Linked DNA regions of Homo sapiens: region 2 is linked to region 1. The links come from fine-mapping of genetic effects on gene expression. A gene starts in region 1. The other region holds a variant in brackets. All regions are shown on one strand. Distances are between the middles of the regions.

Region 1 (2,916 bases):
ACCTAAATTTGTAAAATTTTATAAACCATAAACTGCATCACCAGTGCTATGTATTGTTTTTCTCCTCTCCCTCAGTAAATGGGCTGAAAGTTTGTAGAATGACATGCTACCTAGCTGCAACAGCACAACAGCAGAGTCAACTATTGCTCAGTCCATCTTTAACTAAGGTTTACAACAGGAATCTCCAACGTCACCACCAGAATACACAAAGAAAAATATATTTAAAAATTGACACTGAAAATATAGAGGAACACATTTCACTTTTTTCAACATAGTTACCAAAGTTTACACAGTTAAGCTGGAAAACCTTGTATTTAACGAAAAATAATTTTTCAAACAAGATTAGAATTTGTTCTACTAAAACTACCTCTGTTTCCCCTCTAACCAAAAAAAAAAAAAAAAAAAAAAAAAAGAAAGAAAGAAAGAAAGAAAAAGTGGGGATTACCAAAAAATACAGTCATTTTTAATACTAACATAATGGAAAAGGACAAAATGACAAGGTTAACGAGCAGAGAGACAAGATCAGCATTATGGCTAGTCTTTCTCTACAGTTCCACAATTCCTAACCCACATTTTTGCCAAATCCACATCCCACCCCACGCAGTACTTACACCTCCACCCACCTACTCACCCACCCCATTTATGACGGCGATCACCTTCCGGGCAGGTATGTGAAGTCAGCCCCATTTCCAGTAGACAATCGACTAGAATGTCTCAGGAGTGACTGAGTCAGAGAATAAGAAAATGATAAAGTGAGAAATTAAAACGGATACAAGTTGTAAGGTGTGTGGAGGGAGGGCGTCTCACAGCGGGGCTAAGGGTGCGGGTGAGGAGCTAAGCAGACTTGGGGCGAGAGAGAAGGGTTTCGAAGGAGTCCTAGGCAGGAGTGCGCAGGTGAGGCGAGTGAAGCAGCTCCAGCCAGAAGATCCAAAAAAACAAAACAAAACACAACAAAAAAAAGCCACAGCTTTTCCTCCGGGAATAACCTGAGGAAAGGGACTCTCGGGACGCCGCGGCGGGAGGCAGTCCCGGGAGGCACAGGAGGCCGGGAACTCACCACCTGGTAGCGCCCAGTCCCCGGCTGGTGGTGATCCATCCTGCCCGGCTCGGGATCCGGCTTCCGAGAGAGGGAGTCTTCTCCGTGCTCAGCTCCCACGGCCACCCCCGTCGACGACGTCGTCGCCGCAGGGCCCCTTCCGCCTCCGTTCCTGCAGCCGCGGTCTCCCGGCGGAAGCTCTTCACTTCCTGTGGCTCCCGCAGCGGCCGCCGAGACCTCCGCGTTGGTCGCGGTTCCGCGGAGAAGCTCCGGGGCGCCGCGCGCGCTATTGAGCATGCTCGGACCGCTCGCGCAGACTCGCTGGCTCCGCCGGCGTGCCATCCGCGCCGCCAGTGGGAGGGTATAGCTGGGTGGGAGGAGATGGAAAAGTAAGGCAAGTCCGGGGGAGCTGTCTAGGTTGTCAACCTGTCGAGTGGGCGGTCGCAAAAGGCGCGCGGGGGGCGGGAATGACCCGTCCTTGATTGGTCTTTTCTGTGTGCGCGAGTTTCGCGCAGGCACGAGCCAGTGCGCCTTCTCACCACACAGAGACAGAGGCTGACAAGGGATGGGGCCGCGTTCCTAGAACACCTGAGGACAGGTCGCCCGGGTACCCGACACTTCCTCACCCAGCGTAGGACATGGGGAGGAGATTCATCTCTAGAACATTCCCAAAACGCTTATTCAAAATCATTCGTAAGATAAGCGATTTTTTAAAGACTAATATAGAGTAGTTAGAGTTTACAGAAAAATTGAGAAGTTACAGAGATATCCCATATACACTTGGCTCCTACGCATGCATAACCCCCCACCATTATCAACATCCCCCCTCAGAGTGGTACATGTGTTACGACTGATGAACCTGCATTGACACCTCATCATCACTCAAAGTCCATAGTTACCTCAGGGTTCACTCAGGTTGTTGTATACTCCTCGAGTTAGAACAAATGTGTAATGGCAGGTATCCATCATTATAGTATCCTACAGAGTATTTCCACTGCCCTGAAATTCTTCTGTGGGGTAATTTTTGTTTTTGTTTGTTGTTTTTTTAGAGATGGGGTCTCACTATATTGCCCAGACTGGAGTGCAGTGGCTGTTAGCAGGCGCAGTCATGGCTCACTGTAGCCTCGAACTCCTCGGCCCAAGCTATCCACCTGCCTCAGCCTCTGGAGTAGCTGAGACTACAGGCACTAGCTCTTTGGTTACTTTTTAAACTCTTTTTTCCACTTTTTGGTAATAAGAGATTTAAAAATCCAACGGACTCTCCAGACAACTCTCAAAGAAAGAGGTCTCTAGAGTTCTAGGTTACTGGAAGGACGTTAGAAGAAAGTAATGAAATCAGATAGGATTATTTTGTGGTAATACTCAATAATTCCAATTGATTTAACAGCAAGGAATCACTTGGGAGCACTGTTAGTAGTATCTCACTGTCTGGTTAACCACACATGACACGGCATAAAGCATATTTCTCTAGCAAGTAGAAGAGTATGACAGAGCAGCGAAAAGTACCTTTTAACCTGAAGACCAACGTTCTATACCCTAAAAACTATGATGCTGCTTGATGTGGCCCAGCTATGTTTTTAACATAACACCACATTTTCCCTAAATGATCTTACAGTGGAGCGCCCTGAAGGGAAGGAAAGGGATCTGGAGCCCCATTTATTTCCTTCATGAATGTCCAGAGGAGATCCTTGAAATGAAGACTGCCACTGGGTGAGCCTAATCAACTGGTTAAAATAGCAAGATAGAATAAAAACAGAAACTCTTTGAGAGATTGACAACTAAAAAATGTAAGCCTTCCTCATAGTTCTTTTTAAAGCATTCATCAACTCTTCCTATTTGTGCCGTTTTGACATGTCTAATAGCATAAAGCATTACTGTGC
Region 2 (2,916 bases), 130 kb before region 1:
TGCTCAACTTAGGGAGATCCTGTTCCAAACTCACTCATGCGGTAGTTCATAGGATTCAGTTCATTGTGGGCTGTATGTGTGAGGGCCTCATTATTCACTGGCTATTGGCCAAAGGCCACGTCTAGTTCCTTGGATATAGATCACAGATCTCTCCATAGAGCATCTCAAAACATTGCAGCTTGCTTCACCAGAAGGGGCGAGCCAAAAAGAGAGACAAAAAGCCAATGATACAGTCTGACAGTGTCCCCACCCAAATCTCACCTTGAATGTCAATAATCCCCATATTTCAAGGGCAGGGTCAGGTGGAGATAATTGAATCATGGGGGTGGTTTCTCTCATACTATTCTCATGATAGTAAATAAGTCTCACAAGATGTGATGGATTTATAAATGGAAGTTTCCCTGCATAAGCTCTCTTCCCTGCTGGCATGTAAGATGTGCCTCTGCTTCTCCTCTGCCTTCCACCATGATTGTGAGACCACCCCCAGTCATGTGGAACTGTGAATCCATTAAACCTCGTTCCTTTATAAATAAACCAGTCTCAGGTATGTCTTTGTTAGCAGCATGAGAACAGACTAATACAGTAAAGTAGTATCGAAAGAGTGGGGAGCTGCTGTTCCAAAATTGTGGAAATGACTTTGGAACTGGGTAACAGGTAGAGGTTGGAACAGTTCTAAGTGCTCGGAATAAGACAAAAAAAGTAGGAAAATTTGGAACTTCCTAGAGACTTGTTGAATAGTTTTGACCAAAATATTGACAATGATATGAACAATAAAGTCCAGGTTGAGGTGGTCTCAGATGGAAAAGAGGAACTTATTGGGAACTGGAGTAAAAGTGACCCTTGTTATGCTTTAGCAAAGAGCATAACATTTTAGCAAAATCCTTTAGCATTTTGCCCCTGCCCTAGAAATGTGTGGAACTTTGAACTTGAGAGAGATGAGTTAGGGCATCTGGCAAAAGAAATTTTTAAGCAGCAAAGTGTTCAAGAGATGACTTGGGTGCTATTAAAATCATTCAGTTTTATGTATTCACAAAGATATGGTTTACAATTGGAATTTGTGTTTAAAAATGAAGCAGAGCATAAAAGTTCAAAAATTTGCAAACTGATGATGTGATAGAAAAGAAAAAGCCATTTTCTGAGAAGAAATCCAAGCCAGCTGCAGGAATTTGCATAAATAATGAGGAGCCAAATGTTAATCGCCAAAACAATGGGGAAAATGTATCCAGGGCACATCAGAGACCTTCATGGCAGCCCCTCCCATCACAGGCCCGGAGGCCTAGGAGGAAAAACTGGTTTCATGGGTCAGGCCCAGGGCCCACCACTGTGTACAGCCTAGGGAGTTGGTGCCCTGTGTTCCAGCTGCTCCATCCATGCTAAAAGGGACAAGGTACCACTCAGGCCATGACTTCAGA[G/A]GGTACAAGCCCCAAGCCTTGGCAGCTTCCATGTGGTGTTGAGCCTGCAGATATACAGAAATCAAGAATTGAGGTTTTGGAACCTCTGCCTAGATTTCAGAGGATGTATGGAAACTCTTGGATGTACAGGCAGAAGTTTGCTGTGGGGCACGGGGTGGGGGGAGGTGGGCTGGCCTCATGAAGAACCTCTGTTAGGGCTGTATGGAAGGGAAATGTGGGGTTGGTCCTTTCCCCATGGGAGGACATAGCTACAAGGTGCCATTTATGAAGCAGAGACTGAGCCCTCACTAGAAACCAAATATGCTAACCTCTTGATCTTGGACTTCCCAGCCTGCAAAACTAACTTCTAGATGGAGAGATCATGGCAGATGGGAGGCAGGACTAGATTTAAGCTCCCACTCAGGTGCACAGAACAGCACATGGAGGCTTTCAGCATGAACTTTGACTGCAGAGCAACTGCAGGAATACATTAGGAAAGCCAAGAGAACACACAGACCCTCTGAAGGAAGCAGATTGCTCCTGCAGGACCCAGGAGACATCCCAAATGCTTTGAGTGCTCAAACAGTGGAAGTGAAAAAGGGATATTGTCCACTCCTGAACACACACTCTCACTGGGGAACTTGAAGGTGTAGACTACAGGAGAAGATTCTGATGTTACCTGAAGCTGAGTTGATTTAGAGAGCTGAGTGAAATACAGGGGTAGAGGAAGCAGTGGAAAAATCCCTGTGGGCCTTCTGGGTCCTCTAGCAAGCCATTTCTGCCTCACCTCACAGGCGTCCTTAAGGATGGCTTCCAGAGGCACTGGGGAAAGGCCACAGGGAGAAGAAAACCTCCAATTGAACTTTATAACAACTTGAACTGATTGAGAAGTCTTCCCCTGCCTTGCTAGAGAACTAAAACTTCCAAATACAAGAACCTCAAAGAACACCTGGGAAATTCATCACAAAAAGATCATCGCCTAGGCACACTTCCATCTGTTATATAAAGTTAAGACAAAGGAAAGAATCTTAAGAGCTGTGAGGCAAAAACACCAGGTAACCTATAAAGAAAAACCTGTAAGATTAACAGCAGATTTCTCAGCAGAAACCCTACAAGCTAGAAGGGATTGGGGCCCTATCTTCAGCCTCCTCAGACAAAACAATTATCATCCAAGAATTTTGTACCCAGTGAAACTAAACTTCATAAATGAAGGAAAGATGCAGTCTTTTTCAGACAAACAAATATTGAGAGGATGTGCCACTACTAAGCCAGCACCACAAGAACTACTAAAATGACCTCTAAATCTTGAAACAAATCCTGGAAACACATCAAAACAGAACCTCTTTAAAGCATAAATCTCACAGGACCTATAAAACAAAAATACAATTAAAAAAAAGGTATACAGGCAACCAATAGCATGATGAGTGGAATGGTACCTCACACCTCAATACTGATATTGAATGTAAATAGCCTAAATGCTCTACTTAAAAGATACAGAATTGCAGAATGGATAAGAATTCACAAA

Alleles and levels. Alleles are on the strand shown, and positions count from the first base shown. SD is a standard deviation of normalised expression in the study named.
For the expression in testis of the gene that starts at base 1,427 in region 1, A is the low allele of the variant in region 2 and G is the other (small effect, 0.25 SD a copy in GTEx).

The links. PIP is the estimated chance that this variant, and not a neighbour inherited with it, causes the effect.
Region 2: its variant is the best candidate, but not a certain one, in a credible set for the expression of NDFIP2 in testis (GTEx, PIP 0.55).

The regions. Positions count from the first base shown.
Region 1 is chr13:79,479,666-79,482,581 of GRCh38, reverse strand. It overlaps NDFIP2 (Nedd4 family interacting protein 2), which reads right to left and starts at 1,427. Exons shown (of 8, transcript NM_019080.3): 1 at 1,058-1,427. The coding sequence starts at 1,378. It overlaps NDFIP2-AS1 (NDFIP2 antisense RNA 1), which reads left to right and starts at 1,351. Exons shown (of 3, transcript NR_046685.1): 1 at 1,351-1,430; 2 at 2,652-2,746.
Region 2 is chr13:79,611,177-79,614,092 of GRCh38, reverse strand. No RefSeq gene overlaps it. Among named protein-coding and RNA genes, the nearest start is that of LINC01068, 46 kb to the right of the region's middle. The variant G/A (reference allele first, on the strand shown) is at 1,413.